7 separate regions of the Homo sapiens genome follow, and all the other regions are linked to region 3. Evidence: fine-mapped expression QTL. A gene starts in region 3. Each other region holds a variant in brackets. All regions are shown on one strand. Distances are between the middles of the regions.

Region 1 (4,091 bases), 34 kb before region 3:
TTGTATAAAACCATAGAAATAACTTTAAATAGAAACATCGGGGGTCAGACGCCATGGCTCGCAGCTGTCATGCCAGCACTTTGGGAGGCTGAGGTGGGAGGACTGCATGAACCCAAGAGTTCAAGGCCAGCCTGGGCAACATAGCGAGACCCCGCCTCTAAAATTTTAAAAGTTGGCCAGGCATGGTGGCGTGCATCTACAGTCCCAGTCACTTGACAGGCTGAGGCAGAAGGATGGCTTGAGCCCAGGAGTTCAAAGCTGCAGTGAGCTATGATCTTGCCACTGCACTCCAGCCTGGGCGAGAGATCAAGACCCTATCACTTCATAAAAATAAAAGAGAAACAAATCAGGATTTTTTTTTCTGGAAGGACTAAAAAGGACTGCTGCAGTATTTCTGGGGAGAGGGTCTCATGGAGGAGGGAGGAAGGTGTAGGTCTTACCTTTGTCATCTGTGATATTTACATTTTTAAAGCCCTGTCAACAATTCACTTAGGATTTTTTTTTCATGCCACTTAGAGTGGCCCATGTCAGGAAATTATGAGTGTTTTTATTCTCTGTAACTCTAAAAACAACCTCAACATAGCAAGCCTGACACCTTTTTTAAAAATACCAATCTGGTGGATCCCTGCTCCAGAGCAGCTGCTCTCCAGTGTGGTGAGAAACGCTGGCAGATACGGTCTTACTTCTCGAGGAGCCCCATCCTCTTCACAGATGTGGACATGGTGGGGCAGGCGTCGGACAGCGCCCTGGGAAGGGCCTGTGCAAGGCAGCCTCAGCCGCTCTCCCCCAGGAGACATTGTAAGGATCCGTGCACAATCTTTATGATATGAAGATGCTGCGCACGTTTCAAGCGGCTGCATCTGAAACAAGCCAGGCAGTCAGCTGGGGGCTTCCGAGTAACTGTGGCTTCTCTGGCGTGTGATGTTTATGAAATACGGTTCATCACTGTGAGGATGTGGAGAAAGCTGGGAGGAGGTGGGCTGAAACACAGCCAGAGCAGAGACCACAGCACTGACGACTGCTGGGGAAGCTCTCCTTGGTTTGGCCTCCCCAACCAGGCCTCGGCTGGCAAGGATGCAGCTCATGAAATCTTCTTCCTCGGGGTGGTCCGGGGTGGCCGCAGCTCCGCAGGCCCATGGGCAAACGGGCAGCAGTCCGTGGACAGAGCGCAGCCATCAGGGTGATGCATGAAGAACCAGCAGAGGCGGGTTTTGCAGGCTTCAGAGAGCAGTCTCTGTTTCGCTTCCGGTTGCTTTGTCTTCCACAGTGTCTCCTCTCGCCAGTCGCGGATGTGAACTCTCCCATTCACAACTGTGGTTTGGAACAGAGAAGACACACTGAGAAGTAAACCTGAAAGTTCCTTAATTCACCAGCCTCTCTTTAGCTCCCACGCCACGGGAGGTGCCAATCCAGGGTCAGGGATACAACCGGAACACAGCCTAGAGTTCCTGCTGGTCACAGTGAGTCTGCCTCCAGTGGGAGTGACTGAGGTATGGGATGTGTCTTCAGGCAAGGCCGGGGAAGGTGAGCCCTGCGGGAAGTGAGCGGCAGCCCTGCGCAGACCCAGGAAGAGCATTTTA[G/C]GCAAAGCAGCAGCAAACCCGAGTGTCCCAGGACAGACTGCACCAGGACTGGCCACATTCGAGGGACAGCCAGAGGGGAGGGCAGAGGACAGAGCTGGGTCCCTTGTGGCCTCATCATTGAGGCCACCGACCTTCCCTCTGGCTGAGAGGCAGGTCCTGCAGAGCCACCATTTTAGAAGGATCACTTGAGTGGAGGAAGGAGGGACCACGGTGTGAGAGCCGAAACACGAGAAAACATCTGTGCTGCAGCCCCGACCTCTGAGGACTGTGTCAGCATTACGGGCAGAAAGAGGGGCAAGGCGCAGGTCCCTCCACGCAGTCTAAGGACGGGGCTGGTGCAGGGCAGCCTCTGCTCCTTGGTGCCGTCCCGGTGCACTGGGTTTACATGCGCCTCCCAACCGGAGCCCCTCCAGGTGCAAGTGTGGAGTAACAGAGGCCAATGAGCTCTGGAACAGGAACACGAAGGGGGACCTGCCTATGTGCAGTAGTTTAGATACCCCCTCTGAAAGTGCCACTGGGACCCAATGGCCAGGGCTGATCTCCAAACTGGGGAGCTGGAGGGACATCAGAGTGGGGTGGGGCCAGGAGAGGGCTGCTGTGGGCCCGCTCGTCACCTGGGTCCCAGGCCTCGCAGGCCTCCTCTAGGCTGCCTCCTGACCCCGCCGCCCAAATTGGGCCGAGATACCCCCCTACGCTCCCATTTGGCCGTTTCCTTGTGGGAATCCAACAACTCCCCGTGAAACATGGCCAAAGCAACCACCTCCTTCCTGGTTCTCGCTGGAAGCTAGGAAACCGCTCACGACAGAAGGCTCGGGGGAATAAAGGAGCCTCAGTGAGGAAGTCTGGCTCACCGACTTCCAAAGAGAACTTGAAAGTGTAGGAATTAAAGCTCGAATTCTGCCTTCAAATCACCTTGTGTGTGGCAATAACGAGCCTGTGTGCTTTTGACAGACTGATGTTTTACAGTTTCCCCTGAAACTAGAGAAATGAGCCCAGAGAACGGCGCCACAGTTGGGGGCTCACCCTCACAGCCTGGCTGGAAGCACCGCCAAGGCCAGGCCTGACCCTGTTTGCCCTCCCACGGCTGCCTCTCTGTCTCGCCTCCCAACATTGGAGCTGAGGTTTCTTAACCTGAAGTCTCCTGTTAAGGCAGTCCCGCGACACTCTGCCCATGTCCCCACAGCAGCACCTCCTGGCGCAGCACAGAAGGGCACATCCTGGCCACTGAGGGACCTGGAACCCTCTAAAGGGTGCTCAGGAGGAGCCCCAGGGGCCAGAGCTTCCCCCCAACTCCCCATGATCCCAAACAGTGAGGGGCCTCTGGCCTGATGCCCTGACCTGTCAAGAGAATGGGGGGTGGGGGATCACTGAGGCCAAAGGCTGAGTACAGATTCCCCTCAGAGCCAGCCTCGGCACCCCCTTCCCCACCACAACGTGACAGGCCAGCTGGCGGCAGGCCCTCCCACGCGGCTCCGGAGTTAAGAGCACACCCAACCATGTTTTGGAAGCAGGACCTGCAGGGTGTCTAAGGACTGAGGAGCGGGCGCTGATGATAGAGATGAGGCTCCCGAACGGCGCAGGCAGGCTCCAGGCTGGCCCAGCCTCACTGACCCACTCCCCGTGTCTACAACCCTGGACATGGCAGGTAGCTCCCGGCCGCCCCTCTTAACACCTGAGCCCCCATCTGGCCAGGTGCCAGAAGGGGCGGCCTTCCAGAGGCACTTGCTCTAGCCAGCTAGAAAGACAACCAACAGCTAGAAAGACTCTCCTCCTCTGGAAATGTGCTCCTCATTTTGAAATGGAACCACAGAGCCACAGTCTGCTCCACCCAAGTTCCTGCCGCCTCCTCCCTCCTTACCGTGCGCATCCCCTGGGACTCTACCTCAGCACAGGAGCCGCCATCTCCACCACTGCTTCTGACAGCAGACAGACACTCCCTTTCACCAAGTTGCTCTGAGGAACGGGTTGAGGATTACAGTCCTCGGATGATGCCATAGGCTCAGGGGTGCCAGTGCTGGGTCAGACCTGGCCCGGACTGTGGCGTGGCCTCTCCACTCACTGGGAGACATCGGGCCGGCGCACTGACCTCTCTGAGACTTGTCTACATGTTCAAGGAGGAAAGGCCTGCTCTGCCATGAGTGCAGGATGAGATGAGGCCCCGCGTGTACCCGGCAGCACGGTGCCAGGCTCCATACCAGCCAGCATGGATGCAGCGCGCCGCCCCTTGGCGGCCTCAGGAAGGGGCAGGGACAGAGGCAGGGCTGGCCCTTGTGGCCCTCATGGGTCATGCTCAGGGCTGGCTGACCTGAAGCCATCTGGAAACATTTCCAATTCCTCACTCTCATAAACATTTTCTGAGACTAGCCACGTTAGCTTAAAACAAAACCTAAACCTCATACAGAGATAAGACCCAGCTTCAGAGCATAGTTTTCGCATGACTGGAGGAGAATGTTTATTTGGAACCCAATTCCCAGGCCTCCTACTCAGAAGCGTTTCCAAAAACAAGTTTGC
Region 2 (4,091 bases), 62 kb before region 3:
GCAGGAGGCTCCTCCTGCACCCTTGAGCCTGGAGCACCCTCCCTGCATCTGGCCTCAGTGCACCTGACTTCCCACAGGCAGAGATGCCACCTCCTCAGGGGCTGCAGCCTCCTGTTCGCAGATGGAAGATGCAGCTCTGAGGGGTGAGGAGTCACAGCCGGAGCAGCACCCGGACAGAAGCCTGCTCCAGCCAGTTTCTGCCACCTCTGTCCTATCTCTCCTTTGAAAGGTGAGGGACAGGGACCTAGAGAGGCTGCCAGGGCCCTCAGTGTAGCACCGCCTCTTCCTGAGAGGTCACGCAGCCAGGAGAAAGGACAGATCAGCTGTTGTTGGTGGAGGGAGTGGGACATGGAGGGGGCATTCCTCTGCGGCTGGGGGCAGCATGCAGGGGAGGGTGGGTAGAGCAGAAGGTGAGTAATGACCAGAATCAGCAGGACCCAGACCAGGAGGCTGGGGGAAGTGGTAGATACAGCAACAGGTACCCTGCGGGGGCCTATTTAGAATCCAGAGAAGTGGCGTTCAGCCCCAGGGAGCTCAGGGACTGGGGTGGTGAGGCAGACGGGGCTGGCACTGGCAGGGCAGGGCTGCCACCATGGAGTGCAGTTTGCAGGTGCAGCCAGGGTGCCTGGGTTGTGACAGGGGCAAGAGCAAGGGTTTGGAGCAGACCCTTGAGACCCCAGGAAGAGCTCTGCCAAGCTTCAGTGCCCTCTTCCCCACAGGGAGGATGAAGGGAACTTCCTCCCGGGTGGAAGAGATGAGCTATTGAAGGTGGATACAGACTTGGCGCAGGTCCACACCCAAGGATTGGCAGGACCTGTGCACACTACAGACTCGGCACAGGTCCACACCCAAGGAATGGCAGGAGCTCCGTACACGCTGGGGGTCAGCATGGAGCCCAGGTCTGGACACAATGAGTGGGGCGGGGCAGGAGCTGCTGGCTGAAAAGCTGGAGCTGGCACAGCTCCAGGGGAGGAGGGCAGCAGCGCAGGCCCGGGAGGAAGAGGGAAGGCAGTAAAGCTGGCGCGGGTACCTGGCGGGGAAGGGAGCAGGCACGGGCAGAGGGGATTCCCTGCCTTAGTGAATGGGGGCCATTGCTCAGCCCTGCAGGAGCGCAGGAGACTTAGGTGGGCCATGGGGAAAGCCGAGGAGGTGGGGACATGAGCAGCATGGAAATGGTGCTGAATCTCAGGCTGAGGGGCTTACACCATGCCATGTCCATTCCATGCAGTGCAGACCCCTGATGCAGCCCCTGCCCCGCCCTGAGACCCTCCCAGCAGCCACCACCAAGATGCCCACCAACCTCAGAGGCTCAGAGGCTGGAGGGGGAGCAGGAGAGAGCAGGTGTGGACGGGTGCGGGGACTGCAGAGGGCACCACAGGCTCGGGAGCCTCGGGGGAGACGCTCTGTCCCATAGCTTGGGAGCGAGGCCAGGACAGGCTGAGGTTTGCAAGCCTTGGCACCGAGGTGCGTGTGAGGGCTTGCTGGAGACGAAGCTAGCCAGGAGGATAAGAACAAGAGGGGCTCAGAGCCTTCCGGAACTCCAACATTTAGGAGGGTGAAGGGGAAGCAACCAGGGCACTGAAGAACAGCCAGAGATGCGGGGACATAGGACAGAACTGGGAGCCAGGGCCCAGGCCAAAGCAAGAGAAGAGGAAGCTTCTGGACGGGAATTCTGTTCCCAAGAGAAGCCCTGTGACCACCTGACTCCCGTTGATGGCAGGAACCCTGTGTGGGCATCGGGGTGGAAAGTTCTCTGCACCTTACTGGGTGCTGACTCTTTGCTGTGTTCTCTGAGGTATGTGGCCCAGGAGTTCCACCAAACCCTCCATCCGGGTGGCTGCCTGAGATCATTCTGCAGGCTGGGGCCACAACAGAGGCCACCTCTGGGACCGAGTGCTGTGTCCCTTGCTGGTGGGTGCATGGCCCTGTGCACACTGTCAGCCCAGTGTCCTCCACACCTGGGTCCGGATTCCCATGTGGGTGATTCTCTTGCTTTAGGCTGCTTCCCCGGGGCAGATGCTTGAGCCGGTCCGACTGCTGCAGCCACGGCCTAGGGTCTGCTGGGATAGAGTGCCACCCTTTCCGGGGCTGTAGGGGACAGCTTGCCTTGCAAGGTGAATGGAGTAGACCCTCAAGGGTGTGTGTGCAGAGCGGGAGAACACCCCTAAATGCGGCTCCTGCAGCCTGGGGAAGGGG[T/A]CGGGTTTCTTTGGCTGAGAATTGTCCAGGAACCCCTGCCAAGTCCAAGTCCTCCCTCTACAGATAATGAAGCAGAGACCCAGTGGGAAAGCAGCCCAGGGTCACAGCCAGAAACCAAACCTTGGCCTCTGCCTCTCATGTGGGAGGTGAGGGGTGGGGAACGCCCCCTCAACCCATGACATTACCTCATCCCGATGGTATTCAAGCCTGTGCTGAGTCTGTGTGTGCCTGTGTCTGTTGTGTGTTCAAGGGTGAAGAAGAAGTGGTCTTGGGCCAATCCAGAGAGTGGTGGGCAGACCCTGTAGTGGCCCATGTTCCCCACCTCCTGGCACTGACACCTTTGATTAATCTCCCCTGAGTGTAAGCGGGATCTGGGAGCTGGGACCTGGGACCTGCGTCTCACCAATAGCATCCACCAAGGCAATGGCACTGCTTCCTTGACAGCCTTGCATAAGATCATAACTGGTTGTGCTGCTGTGTGTGAGCTGGCCCTGGGAGAGGGCCTGTGGCCAGGAAAAATCAACCCCACTTTGCCAAAGAGGAAACTGAGGCACAACAAGTCTCTGGCCAACAGCCAGCAAGGAATCGAATACTGCCAACATCCTGGTGAGTGTGGATGCAGAGCCTGCCCCAGCTGAGCCTCGGCTGAGACCAACGCCCTGGCTGGTACCGTGATTGCAGCCTGATGTGACCGTGAGCAGGGAACCTTGCTAAGCTGCACTCACACTTCAGACCCACTGCACCATGAGCTAAATATGTGTCCTTGAAACCACTAAGTTCGTTGTAGTTTTTTAAGCAGCTGAAGATTAGAAATATTCAGAAGCTTCCTCTCCCTCCACCTGACCCCCTGCTTCATCAGAGGATTGCAGATGTGGTCAACAAACACCAACAGGAAGAAGGCAGGGCAGGGTGTCTATTTCATGGCGGCTGCCTGTCCCGAGGACCATTCCCATGGATGCACTCAGGGCAGTTTCTGGAGTCATTCCTGGCAGAGTATTCTGAAAACACACCCATTAACCTTCAGGGCTGATATCAACAGGAGCCCCCGTTTTATGGGTCAGAACCATTTTGGAGAATGTCACGTTATGACTCACAGAACCAAATTTATTCTCCCTCTTTGAACAAAACAATCAATAGCCCTTCTGTAAAATTCAGCTGCTGCTCAGAGGACCAGTTGTCTGTCTCCTCCTGGGAGAGGAGTTACTTCCCCAGGGACCCGGGAAGAGGCGGGAAGCCAGCTGTCCCCAGAGTGGCACCAGTCTTCTCAACAGAGAGATGTGGGCAGGGGTCAGGACCAAGAGCAACTTCTGGAACCTTCCAGGCAGCCTTCTGGTTTTTGGATGGAGAGGCTGGGGCCCAGAAAGGACAGGGGCTGCTGAGCTCACAGCCGATGGCAGCAGAGCCCTTGAGACTCCAGTCACTGAGGGCCCCAACTGAGCACCTCCCAGCTAGCTCCCCATAAGAAGAAAGAAGGGAAGAAGGGGAAAGGAAAAGGGAAAGGGGCAAAGAGGGAGAGGAAGAGTCCAAAAACATCTCAAATAGCAAAGGAATGTCCCGTCTGCCGGAGCCTGGTGAGAAGGCCCTTGTGTGAAATCGCTAACCCTCACTGAGTTCTCACAGTGGCCAAGTGCCCGCTAAAGCTGTTAGGCTCCAAATGTACTCAACCTTCTCAACAATCCTCTGCCAAGATTATCCTCATCCCCATTTTTCCCAGGAGGAAACTGAGGCACAGGAAGTTGAGTGACTTCCCCAAGGTTGCAAGTTTTTGAGGCAGAGCTGGAATTTGAACCCAGGACATCCGGTCCCAGAGCTCATGCTGCTATTAATAGCAGCAGCCTACATACCATCTCTCAGACTTCGAACTGCAGGGGCCAACTGGGGGTGGGGTCTCTCCT
Region 3 (4,000 bases):
CAGACCTCAAGAGGAAGAGTACTCTGGATTATCCAGGTGAGCCCGGCCTAACTCCATGGGCCACGAAGAGCAGAGAATTTTCTCTGGCTGGAGGCGGAGGAGAGAAGCAGCAGGAGAGGAAGGCAGAGAGATTCCAAGTATGAGAAGAATTCAACCCCATTGCTGGCTCTGAGATGTAGGAAGCTGCATGAAAGAACCAGAAAGAAGCCTCCAGCAACTGACAGCCAGCAAGGGAACAAGGACCCCAGTCCTACATAAAAAATTGGATTCTACCAACGAACTGAATGAGCCTGAGAACAGATTCCTTCCCAGAACCTCCAAATAAGAGCCCAGCCGGCAGGCTGTTTGATTTTGGCCTCGTGAGAGAGACCCACAGCGGAGAAACCAGCAGAGCCAATGGGGATTCCTAACCTACAGAACTGAGACAATCAATTTTTTGTACTGACCAATGAATTTGCAGTAATTTGTTACAGTGGCAATACGAAACACATGCTGCTGAATAAAGTTTCAGGTAAGAGTGGCTGAGGCTGAAGTGTCAAGGTCACGGGCAGTAAAAATAAATGCCAGAGATTTAACGAACGCTGAGGACTAGTAGGTTCCCATCCATCCAGTCTCTATGCTCTTTCACAGTTATTTGTCTCAGCATAAATAGCTCTCTTTATGTTGGGGAAAAGGCTTATGGCATGCCTGTATAAACTGGCCATAAAAATATGAGACAATAAGTTGTGGAAAGCCACAAGAGGCCTCTGAGGAGGAAAGCCTTCTTATTGTCATGATGTTCCCATGCTCTGGGCGAGACCTACTGTCTTACCTATAAACACTGTGTTCAAGGAGAAAGACACTCCTTTGAATCACTACAATGTGGTCAGACATGCAGGCTCCTAGTTAAGCACGCTCCCACTGGTTATTCTCCGACAAGTTAAAGATAACGCTGTTTGAGCACAAAGGAGATTCATTTAAACCGCCACTGCTATAGATGACATGTATGATGCACTGTCTCCCTTTCACCCTTTCGCCCCGAACGTCCGCTTCTTAGATCTAAGTGATTGTACTCAATAGTGTGGAGACCAGAGCTCCCAGGCTTTGGCAGCCTCCATTTTGCAATTGGCCCCCTGGCCCCCAATCTTTATGCACTCTTAACCTGTCTCGTCTCATTCCTTCGTCGCCACCGGACTTTGAGTACCCTACGGGTGGTGTTGAGGCTGGTCCCCAACACTTTTACACCTACAGCTTTACCTGCTAAACTCCTAGGTATTACGCAATATCCAGCTAGTCCTTCACTGTCTCTTTGAAGCCTTCCAGACACCACCCCAATCAATTATCCCATCTTCTGTACTAAGGACACACATTTCTATGCGCCCACTCAAAAAACTATGAAACACCTAACAACCTCCCTAGGACATCGCAGAGGAACTAGTACCCTTAGGACTTTTTCATTGACCCGAGGTTCTATGAATGCTTTTTTATCTAATCATATCCGTCCACTATCAAAACACTCTTACCTTGCACGACTATTTCCCTCCTGGGAGTTGTAAGGGGGCAATGTGGGCTAGTTTTCGGGATGACGGTTCTGAGAACCACGTCGAGCTCACGCTGCGCCTCTGGCTGCGATCCCGCCCCGGAGCTGGTGAGGAAGGCCAGCAACTCCGAATTGCCACGGGCGAGACTTTGGGAGAAATCCTCCCAAAGCGAATCCAGATCTGCGGCGGGGAAGTCGCCCTCCCTTCCTTCAGCATGGCCGGGGTGCCCGGAGTCCCTCAGGGGCACTGAGGCGGCTTCCCTCTGTGCCTCCTCTTGCTGGCACTGGCCCTGGGCCTCCTCAAGTTCGCAACATGCCGTGCCCTGCTCGGGTCCTGATAGCGACCTGGGACCCGGGCCCCCTCCGGGGGAACCCTGGCCGGGTCCCGGACCCCGCTCCTTCTGCTCCGAGCCTGCGCTAGTCCCGGGGCCGCGGGCCTCCGCGCAGGGCAGGGCGGCGCTCCAGCGGGCCTCCAGGCGGGCGCCGCAAAGCCGTTTGTTTGCCACCTGCGGCCTCTCCAGCCACACTTCGACCGCAGCCCAGAAGCCCTGTGGGAGAAGCGCGCCTGGGTAGCTGATCCCGGTACGGCCCACCTCAGCCATGGCAGCCAGCAGGTGTACAGCCCTGGCAGCGGCGCGCCGAGATGACGCAGCCCGGTGGCGCGGCGCGTTGACGTCATGGAGGCGGGGTGCTGGGACCGGAAATGAGAATGGCGCCGCTGGAGATCCTTTCCTGCTTTTGGTTTCCCTGGCAGGGGTTGAACTGTGGAGTGTGTGGGTGAGGAATTTGACCTGTGTTTTATTCCCTTTTGAGAGAATTCTGGGCGTGGTATAGTTACAGAATCAAACATCAGCCAGCCAGCGGGTGTGGAACGCATTGTCCTCAGTACTGATTACCGATAAAAGTCAGGGAGCCTAAGTTTGTGAACGTAAAAGATGAGTCCTCTTATGAAAGCTAACTTTTCTCCACTTGGGTTCTGGTTTGCTTTTAGTGCTGGCATTACAGCCAGTGCCTTCCTAAGTCTGAGTGCAGCCATGGCTGTTTCATAAGAATGATGTAACGTTGTCCCATGAGGGATGAAAGTCATCTGTCACCTACTGTAGCAGGACAAGCCACAGACAAAACTCCTCAGACACCGGATTAAAGAAGAAAGAGGTTTATTCGGCCGGGAGCATCGGCAGACTTGCGTCTTAAGAGCTGAGCTCCCCAAAAAAGAAATTCTTGGCCTGTTTAAAGGCTTACGACTTTAAGGGTCCACGTGAAAGGGTCGTGATAAATTGAGCAAGCATGGGAAACGTGACTGGGGGCTACATGAATCAGCTAACAGAACAGAAAGTTTTGCAATGCTTTTTTCATACAATGTCTGGAATTTACAGATAACACAAGTAGTTTAGGTCGGGGGTTGATGTTATTATTATTATTTTTTTTAACTCCTAGGGCCACGTGGTGGTGCCAAGGTTGTCTGGCTATTTATCTGACTTTTGTTTCTTTCTAACTTTTTGCTTTCTCTCTTTTCCTCCTGTCTTATGAACTAGGCAAGGTGGCAGGGAGGAGGGCAGCAGGAGTAGTAGTGGTCTCCTTATCCCTTCCTTTGAGAATTTTCACAAATTAGTGGGAGTTCTCGCTTTTATTTTTACTTTGAGTCTCTTTGGGAGACAGAGTGATAGTGTTTTATGTAATACACTTGCAGTGAGGGTTTTAAATTCTCTTATAGCTGGAAACTATCTTTTAAATAAAGACCTAGGATCAAACCTGTGTTAAACCAGTACAGGCACATGTGCCAACTTTGTCATGTCCTAAGCAGGTTAGTTTTTTTACTGGGTCTTAAAAGCTTTTTTCCTAGCAAGCAACACAGTATTTCTTAATAATAGGAGTTTTTAAGAGCCAAATGCTTGAACTTGGCATCTGCTTGGGGAAAGAGTTAAAGTAATCTTGAGGCATTAAATCTTTTGCTTCTCAAGGCCATTGGTCTCTCATGTTAGCCTTTTTATAAACATAACATGAAGAAACGTCTAGGCTGCTGGCAATGTTTTCAGCCAGCTGAGCAAATAGGTTGTTTGTTTGTTTTGCTAAAGGAGGAGGCTCTTGTAACTTCTGGTTTATGTGTTTAAAGAATGACTTAAAGACTCGGAATTGTTGCTGGGCTGGACGGGTCTGGGTTTCCTGACTAAGTAGTATGTGTACAATGGGGACACCTTATATAGGTGTTTCTTCTAGCATGGTTATGGGGGGTAACAATAACAAAACAATATACAGCATATTTGTATCCAGCAAGGACAAAAGAGGTCCTTACCTGGGAAAAAGATTGAATACAGTGACAGAACAATAGGAAAACAGTATTACAGGAAAACTATTAGTCTTAAGATTTTTAACTACGTTTACTTGCTTGACAAGTCCTCAAGCTTCGGCCATGCGTAGACTATTCAGCTGCCAGTGCGTGACTAGAGCCGGGCTTGTTGTTTCTTCAAGCTTCAGCCGTGT
Region 4 (4,091 bases), 74 kb after region 3:
AAAAAGTGCATTCCTTCCAGTTGCAAGGAACTGGTGTATTAACCAGGAGCTGCCAGGTGAGAAATTCACTATAAGCGAACAAACAGAGCTGCAGGGGAGTTGAGACCATCCTTAAATCAAGCCCGCTGCTCCAAACTGTGAAACATAAGCTGGAACCTAGGCCCTGTGGAGCAGCAGCCTGGGTCTGTGTCTGTGGAGCCCAGAGTAGCAGAGTGGGGAGGAGGGGTTGCTAAGTGCATTTAGCGGGTGCAGGCAGAGGGGTTTCTTCTCAATAAAATGGGTCAGCGTAAGCTGGATACACAATAGACCACCTCCCCAGGCCCTGGAGATGGTCTGGGCTGCCCCTTTCCACCCTGCACGGGTGAAGTGTCTGCTCAGCTGCCCTTCGCCCTTCATTTGTACAACCTTCCTCCAAGACAGGAGCGTCTCTCCCCATCTTCCCAGTGAGGCCACTTAGGCTGAGAGCAGTGAAGTCTGCACCTCCCGTAGGGGAGTGCTGGCCCGGGGCAGGACCAGAGGAGCAGGGTGTGGTGGCCCAGGTCCAGAAATCAGCCAGTAAGGGCCACTCGGCGAGGGCATCCTGCTGCTGGTGGCCACGTGCCACCTGTGCGGCCTGTAGCGGCCTGGGGTGTGAGAGCAGATTTCAGAGCAGCAGTCGATGCAGCCTTGCAGCATCCTGCGGTGGCTGCAGTTACTAAGAAACAGCGTGTCCACTGCCACGATCAGTTCTTTTTTTTTTTTTTTGAGATAGGATCTCACTCTGTCACCCAGGCTGGGGTGCAGTGGCATAATCTCGGCCCACTGCAGCCTCAACCTCCTGGGCTCAAGTGATCCTCCCACCTCAGCCTCCCAAGTAGCTAGAACTACAGGTGAACTCCTCCATGCCCAGTTAATTTTTTGCTTTTTTTTTTTTTTTTTTTTTTTTTTTTGTAAAGATGGGGTTTCGCCGTGTTGCCCAGGCTGGTCTCAAGCTCCTGAGCTCCAGTGATCTGCCTTCCTCAGCCTCCCAGAGTGCAGGGATTACAGGAACGAGCCACCTCACCCAGCCAATAATTTCCAAAGAAGAGGGCGAGGGGTGATTTTCATTATAAATGTGTTTTATAGTACTTTATAATTGAATTGTCCTAATTGTTTTCTACTAGAAAAAAAAAGAAAATATTCATATAAATTTAAACCATTTTAAAATTTCTCTAAAAAGTGACAGAGAATTTCCTGTGCTTTTTTGTTATTGTTGTTGTTGTTTGTTTGTTTTGAGACGGAGTTTTGCTCTTGTTGCCCAGGCTGGAGTGCAGTGGTGCAATCTCGGCTCACTGAAACCTCTACCTCCCAGGTTCAAGTGATTCTCCTGCCTCAGCCTTCCGAGTAGCTGGGATTACAGGCATGCACCACCACACCTGGCTAATTTTGAATTTTTTTTTAGTAGAGATGGGGTTTCTCCATGTTGGTCAGGCTGATCTAAAACTCCCGACCTCAGGTGATCTGCCTACCTCGGCCTCCCAAAATGCTGGGATTACGGGCGTGAGCCACTGTGCCCAGCCGAATTTCCTGTGTTTTTAACAAAAACTTTGAGGAGTTGCATTTGCACACTCAGCCGTCTAGGAATCTTTTCCTTCTTATTTCTTTGTCTTCACTTGCTGTGTACGTGTTGTTTGCAGCTCTACAAAAACCTCTGGGGCGCTGTCCTGCAGGAAAGCAAGGTGTTGGAGCGGGCATCCTGGTGGCCAGAGTTTTCTGTGAACAAACCTGTCATAGGAAGTCTGAAATCGAAGCTCTAGTGGGACTGGCACACATTCAGCCAAGTCTAATGAAACGAAGGGAACTAATCAGACGTGGACCTCAACTTCTGATTCCAGAACACGCCGGAGATTGCTGCTGCTTTCTGAGCCCGCACCTGTGCGCCTAAACTGCTGATTGGCCTCAACTGCCCAGGCGGACGGGAGGGAGGCACCCGGCCGGCTGGACTAATCTGGGATCGCGGTGATTTGCAGCGTGGAAAAGAAATGCAGATGATCATGTCTACCTGATGCGCCGTGGGTTTTTTGATAATTAGAATTTCGCACATTCAGTTTTCAGGGTTCAGCTCCTTTCTCTAAAGTAAACAGCCCATTGTCAGGGATCTTCTGGTCAGACAACCTGTGATTCATCTAGATTTTTTACCGAGCTCCACTTCATTGAGAAGTCAATGATGCCAGTCTGGTTCTTTGTCAACTCTCCCTCGGCTTTGTCACATAATTGAATTATGTCATAACCTTATTAATTTGCACATAGATCATCTGAATGTCGTGGTTTAAGA[C/G]TTAAGGAGGAACATCTGTTTGATTACTTTCTTTTGTGGAACTGGAAATTTCCATCGAGGAAATGTTTTTTTAAAAAGTCTAATGATTTGAATGGGCAATTCAGTCTCCAACCGCCCCCCTCCCCCTGCCGCCAGTTATATACAAATCACTTTATTGGTAACATGTATGATCTGTTTGTCCCTGCAGAGTCTACCCAGCAAGTCCTTGCACACATGTGGCCTGTCCCCATGGCGCTGGCCACAGCCTGACTGCAGCAGACCGGGGCCATCAGTGCACGCCTCCCCCGGTCACTCCTGCTCCCTGCAGGGCCATGGGCTTGGCTGCCCTTCCCAGTGTTAGGTTCCCGGAGCAGTTCTGTCTTTGCATCTGGGTCCTGCTTCTTAACCTCTGATCAGCTCAGGGCACGGAAGGCCTTCGTCTTCAGTAGCAGGGAGTTGGGTCACTCTGGTGCCCCCTGACCCCCGTGGCCACACTCGTATCACCACAGCCCATCAAACAGATGTAACCCAGCATGTCTCAGGACGGTGCCGAACCAAATAAGACCAGTTCTTATTTTTCCAGGTAGCCCAGAGAACTTTTGAGCGTCTGAAGGGCATGGTCCAGAATGTTTTTAAAAACTGAATTTCCAGCACTGGAAATCACTTCTGAAGCCATTTTCATGTTAGAAAAGGGTCAGGACACCACCCCCCCACCACATCCCACCCGTCTGGGGCTCCAGGGGCATCTGAGGGGTAATTAGTGACTTCTTTGATGATCACCTACCGCCTGCCAGCACCTTACTGAGCACTCAGGATTCATCATCTCGTGGGACGCTCAGCCAACCGCGTGGGGTGAGCTGTGCCGTTTGCTGCATCTGCAGAGAGGAGACTGGTCCCAATAGGCTGGACACTGCCGCAGGCAGACAGCAGGAGGTGGCCGAGCGGGACCAGAAGCCATGGGACCTCCCTGGTGCCTGAGTGCCCCAGCACAGGGCTGAGACGCAATAGGTAGGTGCTGGTATCCATTGTCACTCGAACCCAGGAGCATCCCCACCTGAATTCATCTTACTCTGGTTTAGAAGCTTCCTTGGGTTTAAACAAACTCTTCGTGGGTTACATGTGTTTTGTCTATGATACTCTTCCTGCTTTCAGAGAGAATGGGAATGAGAGTGCTCAGGCCCTTGCGAATTAGATGGAGCAGTTCCGAGTACAAACCCAGAGAACACGTCAGTGGTGCCTGCCAGTGTCGGAGGGGCTCATTCCCCACTGAGGCTGCCACCCACAGGCCTCACGGGCCCGGGGTCCCCAGCCCCACTGCCTGGGGGTCCCAGCCCAAGAGCAGTTGGGCCTGCGTGGGCTGTCAACTGGGGTCATGCAGATTTCCACCAGGGGTCCCCCTCATAGGATGCCTCAGGCCGTGTGTGTGTGGACGGCTCCTTTACCTAGACCTGTAGCTTTTCTAAGCGAGAAGGAACAGGCTCCCAAGTCCTCTGATGTGCCCGCAGCTAGATTCTAGGTGGTGGCCAGCCTGAGTTAGAGTCACGGTCACTCCTGCCTCACCACCCTCCAGAGCAGGCCCCAGCTGTCCTTGTCTCCCAAGTAACAGCTTTGGGCATCTCCGGAGGGGTTTTCATGTTTTGCCTTTTTTATCACTTGGGACCTTGGTTTGTGGTCTCGTCCAGCCTTTGGTCTGAAACTACCTGTTTTTCTACCAGCAGGTCACAGAAGTTGTTCAAGGTCAAGGGTATGTTCAAGGTTTACAGAAAAAAACACATTTGACTTCGGTGTCATATATGACGGGTTCTCATGCAGGAGAGCT
Region 5 (4,091 bases), 82 kb after region 3:
GTCCTGCCTCAGCCTCCTGAGTAGCTGGGACTACAGGCGCCCACAACCACGCCTGGCTAATTTTTTTTTGCATTTTTAGTAGAGACTGGGTTTCACCGTGTTAGCCAGGATGGTCTTGATCTCCTGACTTCATGATCCGCCCACCTCGGCCTCCCAAACTGCTGGGATTACGGGCGTGAGCCACCGCGCCCGGCCTAAAACAATTCTTTAACTCTTTAATCTAGGTAAGAAAAATCCACATTTCCATGTGTTCTTATAATCTTTTACCAAAAGACACATTTCACTTTTCTTACACATCTTGCATGTAAAACTGTTTTTTTTAGCAGTCTTAATTACATGTGACGATGTTAATTGTTAGTGACTTTTACTCTTGGTGAAAACCTTGGTAAGTTGGGGATTCTAATTGTGTACCAGGTGTGGAATTTAGCCTAGGACACACCAGGCAGAAGTGCAGATAAGGGGGCTGACTCCAGCATAGCTAGGGGCGTGGCTAACTCCACATGTCCCTGGCCTTATCTAGAATCTAATGCTCCAGAGTAGGAAACTGAATAATTTTTAAAAGTCAGGTTGGGCGCAGTGGCTCACCCTTGTAATCCCAGCACTTTGGGAGGCCAAGGCAGGTGGATCACAAGGTCAGGAGATTGAGACCATCCTGGCTAACACAGTGAAACCCTGTATCTACTAAAAATACAAAAAAATTAGCCAGGCGTGGTGGCGGGTGCCTGTAGTCCCACCTACTCGGGAGGCTGAGGCAGGAGAATGGCATGAACCCAGGAGGCGGAGCTTGCAATGAGCCGAGATCGCACCACTGCCCTCCAGCCTGGGCAACAGAGTAAAACTCTGTCTCAAAAAAAAAAAAAAAAAGTCAAAGAAGCAGTTTATGACCTTAAAGCATTTAGCAAACTTAATATCTCACCTGCATAATTTAGACCAAATGTTTACATGTTTGAAGATATTTTTATTTTGCCAATAATCTTTAAAACTCCTTATTTCCCAAAGATTACTTCAGTCACATGAACTAAAAGGCATTACACTTTTTACTTTTCTGACAAAATATTTAAGCACTTATTTTTAAACCAATTAGTTAAAGCTCTTTCATTCATAAACATCACACACATAATACATATAAATACATAGAAGATAAAGAACTTATTTTCCAAGCCAGGAATTGAACCCTGAACCTGGGCCACCATTGTGAAAAGAGAAAGCATGGCCACATGGTTACAAGGTCAAGCTCCCAAGAACATAGAAGACAAGAAGGAAACCTCATCCAGTTTTTTGAGGGACCTGCAGCAAAGTTTGTAATTGACCAGTTTGCTGAGCTGTCTTGAAAAGCAGGCTTAAAGGTGTCCTAAGTCCGTGCTCTATCCTAAGGTACTCCTCTTTATGACAGAGCAATACAGAAAGACACAGAAAGCACACCAGACCTGGTTGGCTACAGCTTAAGACTAGCCTCACAAATCCTTTATTCCATTAATCAAAACTTTACAGGAGATAAACAATTATTTTTTACAATTTATTCAACCAGTTTGCACAGAGAGAGAAAAGCATTGCCTGAGGCAGGATGGGGAAGGCGAGGCGCTCAGGGAGGTCAGAGAAAGACCCATCCATTGCAGCAACACTGAAAAGTTTAGGTGGCTGCTTGTCAGTCATGAAGGGATCTTTTCCAGCAGTCCCGTCAGCTCCCAAGTTTCCCCGTTTAAGGAGGAAAAAACTCCCCAAGTCCTACAATCCTGTACGTGGCTAATTCTGTCACTCACAGCCATCAGCAAAGAGTGCAAGGCAGATTAATCCCAAGAGAATAGCAGTTAACATCCCATAGTGCCAAACCTGCTCTTAGCCAGAAGCGACTTTACTGAGAGGGACCTTACTGAGAGGGGCCTCTAACCCCCTAAATCTGAGAAGGGACTCTAACCCTCCTGAGTTGGGCCTCTAACCCAAGGTTGAGCAAGCGTCCTTACCTTTCCTTAAGAGGGGCCTCTAACCCACTGTGTCTTAGGACAGACTCTAACTCCCCTACGTTGGGCCTCTAACCCAATCCCATCCTTTACCCAGGTACCCCACCACTTATTCAAAGTC[G/A]GCCAACCAGTGGTGCAGTCTACTTCTTTTGGGTTGAGGGGTCTCCTCAGTATCGTCCCTTCCATGATTCACCAGAAAGACGTTACCAGACCCTACCACTTACCCAAAGTTACTCTTTGGGTCTGGGGTTTCCACACTATAGTCACTTCTGTGGTCGCCAGAAAGATGTTACAGGACCCCATCACTTAACCAAAGTAAACCTTTGAGTCAAGGGTTTCCACACTATGGTTCTTTCCATGGTCACCAGAAAGATGTTACAGGAAAGGGGTCCCAATCCAGACCCCGAGAGAGGGTTCTTGGATCTCACGCAAGAAAGAATTCAGTGCAAGTTCATGAAGTGAAAGCAAATTTATTAAGAAAGTAAAGGAATAAAAAAAGGGCTACCCATAGACAAAGCAGCCCTGAGGGCTGCTGGTTGCCCATTTTTATGGTTATTTCTTGATGATATGCTAATCAGGGTGTGGATTATTCATGTCTCCCCTTTTTAGACCATATAGGGTAGCATCCTGACGTTGCCATGGCACCTGCAAACTGTCATGGTGCTGGTGGGAGTGTAGCAGTGAGGATGACCAGAGGTCACTCTTGTGGCCATCTTGGTTTTGGTGGGATTTAGCCAGCTTCCTTATTGCAGCCTGTTTTATCAGCAAGGTCTTTAAGACCTGTATCTTGTGCTGACCTCCTATCTCATCCTGTGACTTAGACTACCTAACCATCGGGGAATGCAGCCCAGTAGGTCTCAGCCTCATTTTACCCAGCTCATATTCAAGATGGAGTTGCTCTGGTTCACACGTCTCTGACAGGTAGATTCAAAAATTTCCTGATTGGCAATGGGTTGAAAGAGTTAAGCTTTGTCTAAAAAGTTGAACTCAGCTTGAGTTAAGGTGGGGGCGGGGGTGGTTGTGGAAGCCAAGGTTTTTGTTATGTTGATGAAGCCTCCGGATGGCAGGCTTCAGAGAGAATAGATGTGCATGTCTCTTATAGGCCCTTAAAAGGTGTCAGAGTCTCCAGAAAAAGCCTAATAAGGGAAGCAGATTCTCTGCAGAATGCACATTTCCCCCATGAGAGACAGCTTTGCAAGGGCCATTTCAACATATGTCAAGGAAATATATTTTGAGGTAAAATACTTTGATTCCTTCGGGGCTACTATGTGTCATGTGATGCTATACCGGAGTCCCGTTGAATTGGGTATCTTATTGCTACAGAGAGTCTGTTTTGTCAGTCTAGGATCTCTGTTTTTATTTTAATGTTGGTCAGTTGTGTCTAAATTCCAGAGCGGGGCAGGTATAATGGGGCATCCCGAGCCCTCCTTCCCATTCATGGCCTGAACTGGTTTTTCAGGTTTCTTTGGGTCCCGGTGGCTGCAAGGGGATGCACTCAGTTGGCTGGGGGACTTAGAATTTTAGTTTTGGTTTACAGCAGGATTTGATGGGCATGCATATTTATCAATGTGAAAGTGTTGTCTGTGGGCGGCGGAGGGCTTGGGCCGTGTCCAGGCCACGCACTGCAAGGGTGCAGCCCCCACACACGGTCCCTGCTCCTAAAGCTGTTGCCCCCACTGCAAGAGTGGAGTAGGTTGAGGTGTAGCCATGACATTCTGGAAACTACATTTTTTGTAATAGTCATTTTGAAAATAAAACATTTGAAAATACTGTGCAGCAAAAACTTGAATAATTGGAATAAAAATGTTCAGTTTAATGTCATTGCTTGCTGCCACCGTTTTCTGATTGTAAAACTAACGTGATTATTAGGTACTATTTTGGTAATGTAGAAAACTTTAAAGATGAAAATAGATATCACTTATAACTCCACATGGAGAAATAGTTGCCCCTCCAATTTAATTGATTTACTTTTGGGCCACAGGGGCCCAGAATTTGATTCATTGTACTCCTTGGTTCATGCCAGTGTTCCTGCACCCAGCACTGAAGCTGAACATTGACAGTGATTTGCCCCTGCCCCAGAGTCCTCCCTGCATTCCCCTCGAGGGCCCCCGTCTCCTGGCCCTGGTGTCCACT
Region 6 (4,091 bases), 92 kb after region 3:
CCTGGGGGCAGGGGAGGGGCCATCCGTGCGCTGGTGAAGCTGCTGAGGTGAGGACAACAGTCCCGCCCTGTGTTCTCTGTGTCCTTGCCCGTGTGTGCCCAGGCCGGCTCTGCTCTCGGCTTCCGGTTCTCCCTCCTCAGTGTGGGGCTTTCTCAGGATCTAGGGTAGCCACAGTGTGAGCTCTGGGCGGACCCTTGTCTGCGCATCCCAGTCCTGCACAGAAGGCCTGGCCCCTGCGGAGCCTGGCCTTTGTATCTGTGTGAGCACCACCCCTACACACCTGGCCATCTAGCCCTTCCCAACCCAGGACGGCTGGGAGGCGCTCCCCCTCTGTGCCCTCCCCACCCTTCCCCACGTCCCTGACCAGCAGCCTCTGTGTGGATGTGAACATAGTATAGGCGGCAAGACTCGAGTTTCCCCTGGCGTCAGGGTCACAGGAGCCTGTCACCTTCCGACCCAGCCATGGCCTGTTCTCCAGAAGGAATCACTTGGTGGGCCTCTGTCACCATTGGCTGCAGCAGCCCCAGCCCTCAGGACAGCACTGACTGGGCCTGGCCACTCCTCTCAGCGGCCTGGAAGCTCGTGGAGCCCAGGACCCAGGTCTGGAGGGTCCCTGTCTCCAGCTCCCAGCACAGGGCCGCACACAAACACTGGGAAAGCACTCAGCAAGCCCTGGAGTGGAATGGGGGAATGATGAACAAGTGAAGTGAGTGAATGAAGAAGTGAGTTAATGAATTAAAGGAATGAATTGGGCAGGTCTAGATGGTGAAGCAGGAAGGGGGCCATGCTGGCCAGTGCGCCAGTGCCGGACTTCCAGGCATGGCCTCGCCACTCCAACCAGTGTGGGTCTCTGCCCTCCCCACAGGAGACATGGGCTCTGCTGTCCCCCAACTATGGGCTGTGCATGAGGGGCCGGCTCCCCTCTGTTCCCCTGACCAGGGACGGGTGTCTCCTTGCTGTGCCTCTCGTAGGACCCGCGCGTGAGGGGCTCAGCTGAGGTCAGTGGTGAGCCGAGGAGCTTGGACGGAACCACCTCTACACCAGGCAGGACGTGTGGGCAGCCGCAGAAATCTTGCTGCAGTATGCCATGGCTAGATGGAGTCTGCCAACCAGGGAAAAGTCCACTCTTCCTTGCAATATCATTGCATTTTAAATTCTTTAAAAACCATCACCAGGAAAAAAAATTTAAAAAGCTGCGGCTCCCTTCCAGTCCTATTAAATGAGCAAATGCTCTTTCCAGAGATCCTTACTTGCCAATTACAGTAACTGAGGAATTTTGTAAGGTATGCATTTCTTTTCGCATATAGGAATCCTGTATAAAATAACAGAGCACTGAAGAAAGACTCTGAAACTGCCAAGGGAGGTCGGCCCGCTGCCCTCAGCCTCTGGCATTCTGCATGGGATCCTGGCCTCTGGGTGAAATGTGCTAGAGCTGGGCTTCAGAAACGCAGGCAGGTTCCTCCTGGCCCCTCCCAGAAGTGAGGTCAGCATGGGAGAAGCCACTCCAGGGAGGAGATGACCCTCTGCCTTTCCTGAGGGAGAGGAGGTCAGCAACAAAGACCTTGAAGGTCCCGGGTCTTCCTTTGCAAACACAATGCTGTGGGAGTCCTAGCTCTTTACATCCTTCCCTGGAGTGATGACCACACAAGGTGTTACAGGTTCAGTTGCATCCCCCTACAATTTGTATGTTGAAGCCCTAACCTCCAGGAGTGCAGTGGTGCGATCTTGGCTCACTGCAACCTCTGCCTCCTAGGTTCAAGGGATTCTCCTACCTCAGCCTCCCGAGTAGCTGGAACTATAGGTGTGTGCCACCACGCCTCGCTATTTTTTTTGTATTTTTAGTAGGGACAGGGTTTCACCATGTTAGCCAGGATGGTCTCTATCTCCTGACCTCGTGATCCGCCCACCTCTACCTCCCAAAGTGCTGGGATTA[T/C]AGGCGTGAGCCACCACGCCTGGCCAAGACAGGGCTTTTTAAGAGGTGATTAGGCCGGGCGCGGTGGCTCACGCCTGTCATCCCAGCACTTTGGGAGGCCAAGGTGGGTGGATCACCTGAGGTAGGGAGTTTGTGACCAGCCTGACCAACATGGATAAACCCCATCTCTACTAAAAATACAAAATTAGCCTGGCACGGTGGCACATGCTTGTAATCCCAGCTACTCGGGAGGCTGAGGCAGACAAATCACTTGAACCCAGGAGGCAGAGGTTGCTGTGAGCTGAGATCGCGCCATTGCACTCCAGCCTGGGTGACAAAAGCAAAACTCTGTGTCAAAAAAAAAAAAGTGATTAAGGTAAAGTGAGGTCATCAGAGTGGGCTCTAATCCAGTCTGACTGGTATCCTTATAAGAGATGAGGACACAGACAGTCACAGAGGGATGACCAGGTGAGGACACGGAGGGAAGGTGGCATCTGCAGGCCGAGGAGAGAGGCCTCAGGAGAAACCAATCCTGTCGACACCTTGGTCTCAGACTCTCAGCCCCCTGAGCTGTGAGAAAATAAATGTCTGTTGTTCCAGCCCCCAGTCTGTGGAACCCCACTATGGCAGCCCCAGTAGACTGATAATCATTCATTCCCTGTGGGATTTTTGTGAGCCCAGCCAGGGACCAGATGATTCCACCTATTTTATTTTATTTTATTTTATTTTATTTTATTTTATTTTATTTATTTTATTTTACAGACAGGGTCTCGCTCTGTCACCCAGGCTGGAGTACAGTGGCACGAGCTCAGCTCACCACAACCTCTGCCTCCCAGGCTCAAGTGATTTCTCCTGCCTCAGCCTCCCGAGTAGCTGGGATTATAGGCACCCGCCACCATACCCAGCCAATTTTTGTATTTTTTTAGTAGAGATGGGGTTTCACCATGTTGGCCAGGCTGGTCTTGAACTCCTGACCTCAAATGATCCACCCGCCTCGCCCTCCCAAAGTGCTGGGATTACAGGCATGAGCCACGGCGCCCAGCTGATTCCACCCATTTTAGATAAGGAAACTGAGGCAGAGAGAGGCTTAGTGGCTCATCTGAGGTCCCTCTGACAGTGGGGCACACCATACCCTGGGGCCAGGTTTCAACTTCTGGTCCAGGCTGTCACCTCCCAGAGGAAAAAATCACACGGTTTAGGGCTGCTGGATGATACAGGATGTTCAAGGGAAGCTGTGAGGAGGCACGTGCAAGCCTGGGAGGCCCAGGGTACAGTTGGGGCCTGATGCAGAAGCCAGCGAACTGCCATCTCACTTCCTCTTCCACCAGCCCTCCAGCCTCCAGAGCCCATCCTCCAGTGAGGACGTGGGCCATAGGAGGTCAGGAGCTGGCATGCAAACTCAAGTTCACCAGGCTCCAAAGTGTACTAGGGTGTCGCTGGAGAGAAACTGCAACCAATTTATGATTTACAGGGTCGTTCGCGCACATTATCTGATACCATCACCTCATGCCCATCACAAGGTCAGGATGAGCCCCGTTTTCCAGATGAGGAGACTGATTTCCAGAGAGCTCAAGTGACCAGCCTGTAGCCCCTGAGTGAGGGAGGAGAGGAGCCCTCGCTGCCTCTGCCCTGGTCTCTGCCCCAAATGAGGAGCTCCCACGGGACTGGGCACTGGGCACTGGGCATGGGGTAGGGGACCTTGCAGTGCTGACACTCAACGCATCAGAAGGAGGTGCTGCACCACCCACCCCCCTGCCATGTGCTACAGAGAACCACAGGCAAGGGGCATGGAGACGACTCAGTGCTGTGGGCTCTGGATGTTCTGCAGCAAACTCCTCCTTCTAGAAGGTTCCTTCCCTCCGCCCTCACTTCTGAGATGGCGCTGAGTCCATGGAGGTACACAGGGAATTGATACCTGGTGCCACAGAACACAGTTGGGTGATTCTTTCTGATTCTGAGTACTTGGGACAGGCAGGGTTTTAAAGACTCAATCTAAGGAGCATGTCAAGGAACAGATTCAAGGTAGGCTTGGGGTGGTCCACCCTCACCAGGACCCATGGAGAAACAGGCAGCAGCTGGAGGCTCAGACCTCCCTCAGCTCCCCTACGGGGGTGTGTTCTCTGGCTCTGCAGTGAGGTAAGCCTACCCTAACCCTAACATGAACCCTAACCCTAACCCT
Region 7 (4,000 bases), 100 kb after region 3:
AAAATAGAAGTACCATATGATCTAGCAATCCCACTACTGGGATTATGTCCAAAGGACATGAAATTAGTATGTTGAAGAGATATCAGCACTCCCATGTTTACTGTGGCAGTATTCCCGATAGCCAAGAGACGGAATCAACATCAAGCCAAGTGTCCATCAACAGATGGATGGATGAGGAAATGTGGTATATATAATGGAATACAATTTGTTCATGTAAAATAATGAAATCCTGTCATGTCTAGATACGTGGATTTTGTAGGTCATTATGTGAAGTGAAATAAGCCAGGCACAGAAAGACAAATATTGCATGATCTCACTCATATGTGGGAGCTAAAAAAGTTGACCTCATAGAAAGTAGAATAGTAATTCTCACAGGCTGGTAAGGGTAAGGAAGAGTGGTTTAGGAAGAAGTTAGTGAATGAATGGAAAATTACTAGGGTGACTACAGTTAACAATAATGTATTAAATATTTAAAAACAGCTAGAAGAGAAGATTTTGAATGATTTCAACGCAAAGAAATGACATATGTTTTAGGTGATGGCTATCCCAGTTGCCCTGATTTGATCATTACACATTGTATACATGTACTGAACTATCACATGTACAAAATAAATAGGTATAATTATTACATATCAATTAAAAAATTTTAAAGATCTTAGAAAAAAGTTGCGGCCGGGCACGGTGGCTCACGCCTGTAATCCCAGCACTTTGGGAGGCCGAGACGGGCGGATCACGAGGTCAGGAGATCGAGACCATCCTGGCTAACACGGTGAAACCCCGTCTCTACTAAAAATACAAAAATTAGCCGGGCATGGTGGCGCGCGCCTGTAGTCCCAGCTACACGGGAGGCTGAGGCAGGAGAATGGCGTGAACCTGGGAGGCGGAGCTTGCAGTGAGTCGAGATCGCGCCACTGCACTCCAGCCTGGGCGACAGAGCGAAACTCCGTCTCAAAAAAAAAAAAAAAAAAAAAAAAGGTTGCATGTGCATGTAATCTAAGAAGTTAAATAATCCCCAGGGCTTTCTATAAAAACCAGCAGTGCCCTGCCCCTCTACCCCACCCACTCAAATTATTCTTCCCCATAGGCAACCACTTCCTTTATTTTTTTTTAAAAAAAAAAGCCAATTTTGTTGGTGTAAGAATACCTCAGAATATTGCAAGTTTTGTTCCAGACCATTGCAATAAAGTGAATATCACAATAAAGCAAGTCACACAACTTTTTTGGTTTCCCAGTGCATATAAAAGTTATGTTGACACTCTACTGTAGTCTACTAAGCATATAATATTAGCATTCTGTCTTAAAATGTATATACCTTAATTTCAAAATATTTTATTGCTAAAAAATGCTGACACAGACACCAAGTGAGCACATGCTGTTGGAAAAATGGTGCCGATAGACTTGCTCAATGCAAGGTTGCCACAGACCTTCAATTTGTAAAAAGAAATGTAGTACCTGTGAAGTGCGATAAAACAATGTATGCCTGTATTTTCCTAAATAACATTCTTATATTGCTGCTTTTCAATTTTCCAGTTTAGTCAAGACCTATTGACTTCCCTTCATGGAAGAGGAGGTTTTAGCTTTCCCTCATTTCCTGCCCCCAACCTCACACCCTCCTTCCCATCAGCCTACCCCCAAGCGCAAAGAGAGTGTGATTCGTGTCAGATTGTTTTAGTTTAAGATCTCTGAGATGGAAAGCAGCCTTTCAATGATTAGGAGAAACACAAGATGGAAATAAAGATTTTATTACTTACAGGTCCTGAGGGTACACGGCATGCCCAGAGGCCACACACACAGAAGTCAGGGAGCATGTGAGGGAGAGAGACAGAAGGACCCTTGCCTTTATTGGAGTCTAGGGCATTCTCTATACAGATTTCCTGCAGGAAGTTTTAATCGGTGGGTTTGAAGCAAGCAGGCACAAGTTCCAGAAGTCATGCTGTGACTGAGAGGTGGCTACTGTGGCATATCTGCACGGTCCATGTGGGGTGAGTCAGTGGGATGAGTCAAGAAGGTTGTATCTGGATGTTCCATATGGAGGTGTTCACCAGGAGGAAGTTGCATATGCCAGATATCTGGATTGACACATCAAGGAACTGGGAGGAAGTGGAGAACTGGAAACCGTGTCGATGGTGATTGAGCCCTGCTTCTGTATGAGAAAGTCCAATTTATATTCAAAATCAATGTTGAGGCAACATAAAATTATAAGAACTCACCACATAGATAAGCATGATTATATAAATGTAACTCAGAGCAGAGCTGTGTAATATACTATGATTACTTTTCCCTTCTTAACTTTTCCCCATAAAGATATTGTTTTTTG[T/G]TTTTTTTTTTGTTTTTGTGTGTGTGTGTGTGTGTGTGTGCGTGTGCATGCCTAATGCTAATGTAACCCCAAACTCTCTGCCTGTTGTCTAAATCTCCTCTCTAGACCTTGGGACACATCAGCTATTCCATATCTCCCTTGTTTTTATGCAGTTCATGCTCTGTTGACTTTCTAATGATGGTTCTGGGGAAGTAAAAATTATTGCAATCCTAAATGTCTGAAAATGACCTTATCAGATCTGCAGCCTTGATCGACAGTTCGGCTGGGTATAGAATTCTAGTTTGGAGATCACTTTCCTTCAGTAAAAGGCAGGCAGAGGCCAATTTTGCAGGAATTGCCTCATCATCTTCTAGCTGTCAGTATAGCTATCATCAAGTCTGAAGCTGTTCTGATTCCTAATTCTTTATATGTGACCCTTCCCTCTTCTGTTACCTATACAAAATTTAAATGAACAAATAAATGATTGATTTTTAGAAAAGTCTTATTTGGCCCTCATTCATGTGTTCTTTGGATAGAAAAAAAGTTAAGTCTTGGTTTTACATATGGTCATGGAGACTAGACTAAAAAAAACTCAGAATAATTCAAGGCTGAAACAGTGGCTTTGTTTTTTCCCTCAAATTCATCTAATGTGGAGCCACTGGGGCGTTACAATGTGAGGGAACTAAAAGTACAATCAATTTATTATTGTCACAACTATCTCACCTGTCAGCTGTGAGAACTGGCTGAGGTGGTGTCTGGCACACTGAACACAGTGCCTGTTGTGAAGTAGGCCCATGGCAGGTGGTGCTTCCAGAACTATCTTCTCCTGCACCGCAGCACTGCTCTCTCCCCATCCACCCGCTTGGAGCAGGAGGTTTTCCTGAGACACCTAAAACATACCTGGCCCTGGCCCTCTCCTACAACAGCTGCCTCTTGGGTCTCCATGGCCCTTAGTCAATGGTGTCCTGGTGCCGGCTTCACCCTGCTCAGCTAGCAGAGCCAACTGTGTGCATCTCCTCCCAGCTCTGCACCAGCGACCTTGTGTTGGCAACGTAGGGGGAGTATTCACACTGTGGAAACTGGGGAATGCTGCACGTCACACTGCCCCAACCAAGAGCCAGTTGTTAAACATTTACCAGCACAGCACCACTTGGGACAACAGCTGAGTGTCTCAACCCAGCGTGTCTGTGTCCACATCCCCAAGGCTCGCATTGCCCGTGGCGTGGAGTAGGACTCACGAAGCTAGTGTTGGCTGTACGTGTGGTGTGTTCAGTGGACACTGAGCACAGCACCAGGACGATCACTGTAGGGGAGGAGTGGGAGGGTGGTGGGTTCCAGAAGGAACCCTGACTGGGAAAGACCCAATCGTATAGTGCCACAACCCCAGGGGCAGGTGAGCACTGACCACTCACCCAAGGCTCCAGAGAAGCCAGGAGGGTCCCTGGGAGGAGTACGCCCTGCATTGCAAAGCCCTGGATATTTCCAGGAACTTGGAGAAGGATTTTTCCTTTTCAGAGGCTGCAGCTGTTACCCCAGGAAACCTCTTTCTTATGGGGTCAGGAGACCCAGGCTGGGTCCCAGCCTCACCAGCACCCAGGACCTAGCACGCAGTGTCTGTAGAGTCAATGAACAGATGTCCCGCTGGGAGTCAGGCATGTTGCTTTGTGCTCTGAGCTTCCCTTTCTCATCTATAAAATGGGGGTA

Alleles and levels. Alleles are on the strand shown, and positions count from the first base shown. SD is a standard deviation of normalised expression in the study named. Not every link is listed here.
As copies of T replace A in region 2, the expression in lung of the gene that starts at base 2,221 in region 3 goes up (moderate effect, 0.43 SD a copy in GTEx).

The links.
Region 1: its variant is fine-mapped to the expression of ACOX3 in whole blood (TOPMed, PIP 0.98).
Region 2: its variant is fine-mapped to the expression of ACOX3 in lung (GTEx, PIP above 0.99). The same link has a PIP of 0.9 or more in visceral fat.
Region 4: its variant is fine-mapped to the expression of ACOX3 in pancreas (GTEx, PIP 0.98). The same link has a PIP of 0.9 or more in prefrontal cortex.
Region 5: its variant is fine-mapped to the expression of ACOX3 in whole blood (TOPMed, PIP above 0.99). The same link has a PIP of 0.9 or more in lung.
Region 6: its variant is fine-mapped to the expression of ACOX3 in whole blood (INTERVAL, PIP above 0.99).
Region 7: its variant is fine-mapped to the expression of ACOX3 in whole blood (INTERVAL, PIP above 0.99).

What each region holds. Positions count from the first base shown.
Region 1 is chr4:8,472,992-8,477,082 of GRCh38, reverse strand. It overlaps TRMT44 (tRNA methyltransferase 44 homolog), which reads right to left. Exons shown (of 11, transcript NM_152544.3): 11 at 528-1,311. The coding sequence ends at 1,082. Among named protein-coding and RNA genes, the nearest start is that of TRMT44, 34 kb to the right of the region's middle. The variant G/C (reference allele first, on the strand shown) is at 1,581.
Region 2 is chr4:8,501,288-8,505,378 of GRCh38, reverse strand. It overlaps a transcript of TRMT44 not described here. Among named protein-coding and RNA genes, the nearest start is that of TRMT44, 63 kb to the right of the region's middle. RefSeq lists an enhancer at 310-1,197. The variant T/A (reference allele first, on the strand shown) is at 2,197.
Region 3 is chr4:8,438,944-8,442,943 of GRCh38, reverse strand. It overlaps ACOX3 (acyl-CoA oxidase 3, pristanoyl), which reads left to right and starts at 2,221. Exons shown (of 18, transcript NM_003501.3): 1 at 2,221-2,296. TRMT44 (tRNA methyltransferase 44 homolog) reads right to left here and starts at 2,167. Exons shown (of 11, transcript NM_152544.3): 1 at 1,503-2,167. The coding sequence starts at 2,121. RefSeq lists silencers at 1,754-1,813, 1,864-2,073 and enhancers at 1,542-2,275, 2,094-2,333.
Region 4 is chr4:8,364,645-8,368,735 of GRCh38, reverse strand. It overlaps ACOX3 (acyl-CoA oxidase 3, pristanoyl), which reads left to right. Exons shown (of 18, transcript NM_003501.3): 18 at 1,656-2,454. The coding sequence ends at 1,775. Among named protein-coding and RNA genes, the nearest start is that of LINC02517, 47 kb to the right of the region's middle. The variant C/G (reference allele first, on the strand shown) is at 2,294.
Region 5 is chr4:8,357,246-8,361,336 of GRCh38, reverse strand. It overlaps a transcript of ACOX3 not described here. Among named protein-coding and RNA genes, the nearest start is that of LINC02517, 39 kb to the right of the region's middle. The variant G/A (reference allele first, on the strand shown) is at 2,080.
Region 6 is chr4:8,347,368-8,351,458 of GRCh38, reverse strand. No RefSeq gene overlaps it. Among named protein-coding and RNA genes, the nearest start is that of LINC02517, 29 kb to the right of the region's middle. The variant T/C (reference allele first, on the strand shown) is at 1,934.
Region 7 is chr4:8,334,642-8,338,641 of GRCh38, reverse strand. LOC124900658 (a long non-coding RNA gene) reads right to left here and starts at 3,310. Exons shown (of 2, transcript XR_007058013.1): 1 at 3,197-3,310; 2 at 1,727-2,143. The variant T/G (reference allele first, on the strand shown) is at 2,318.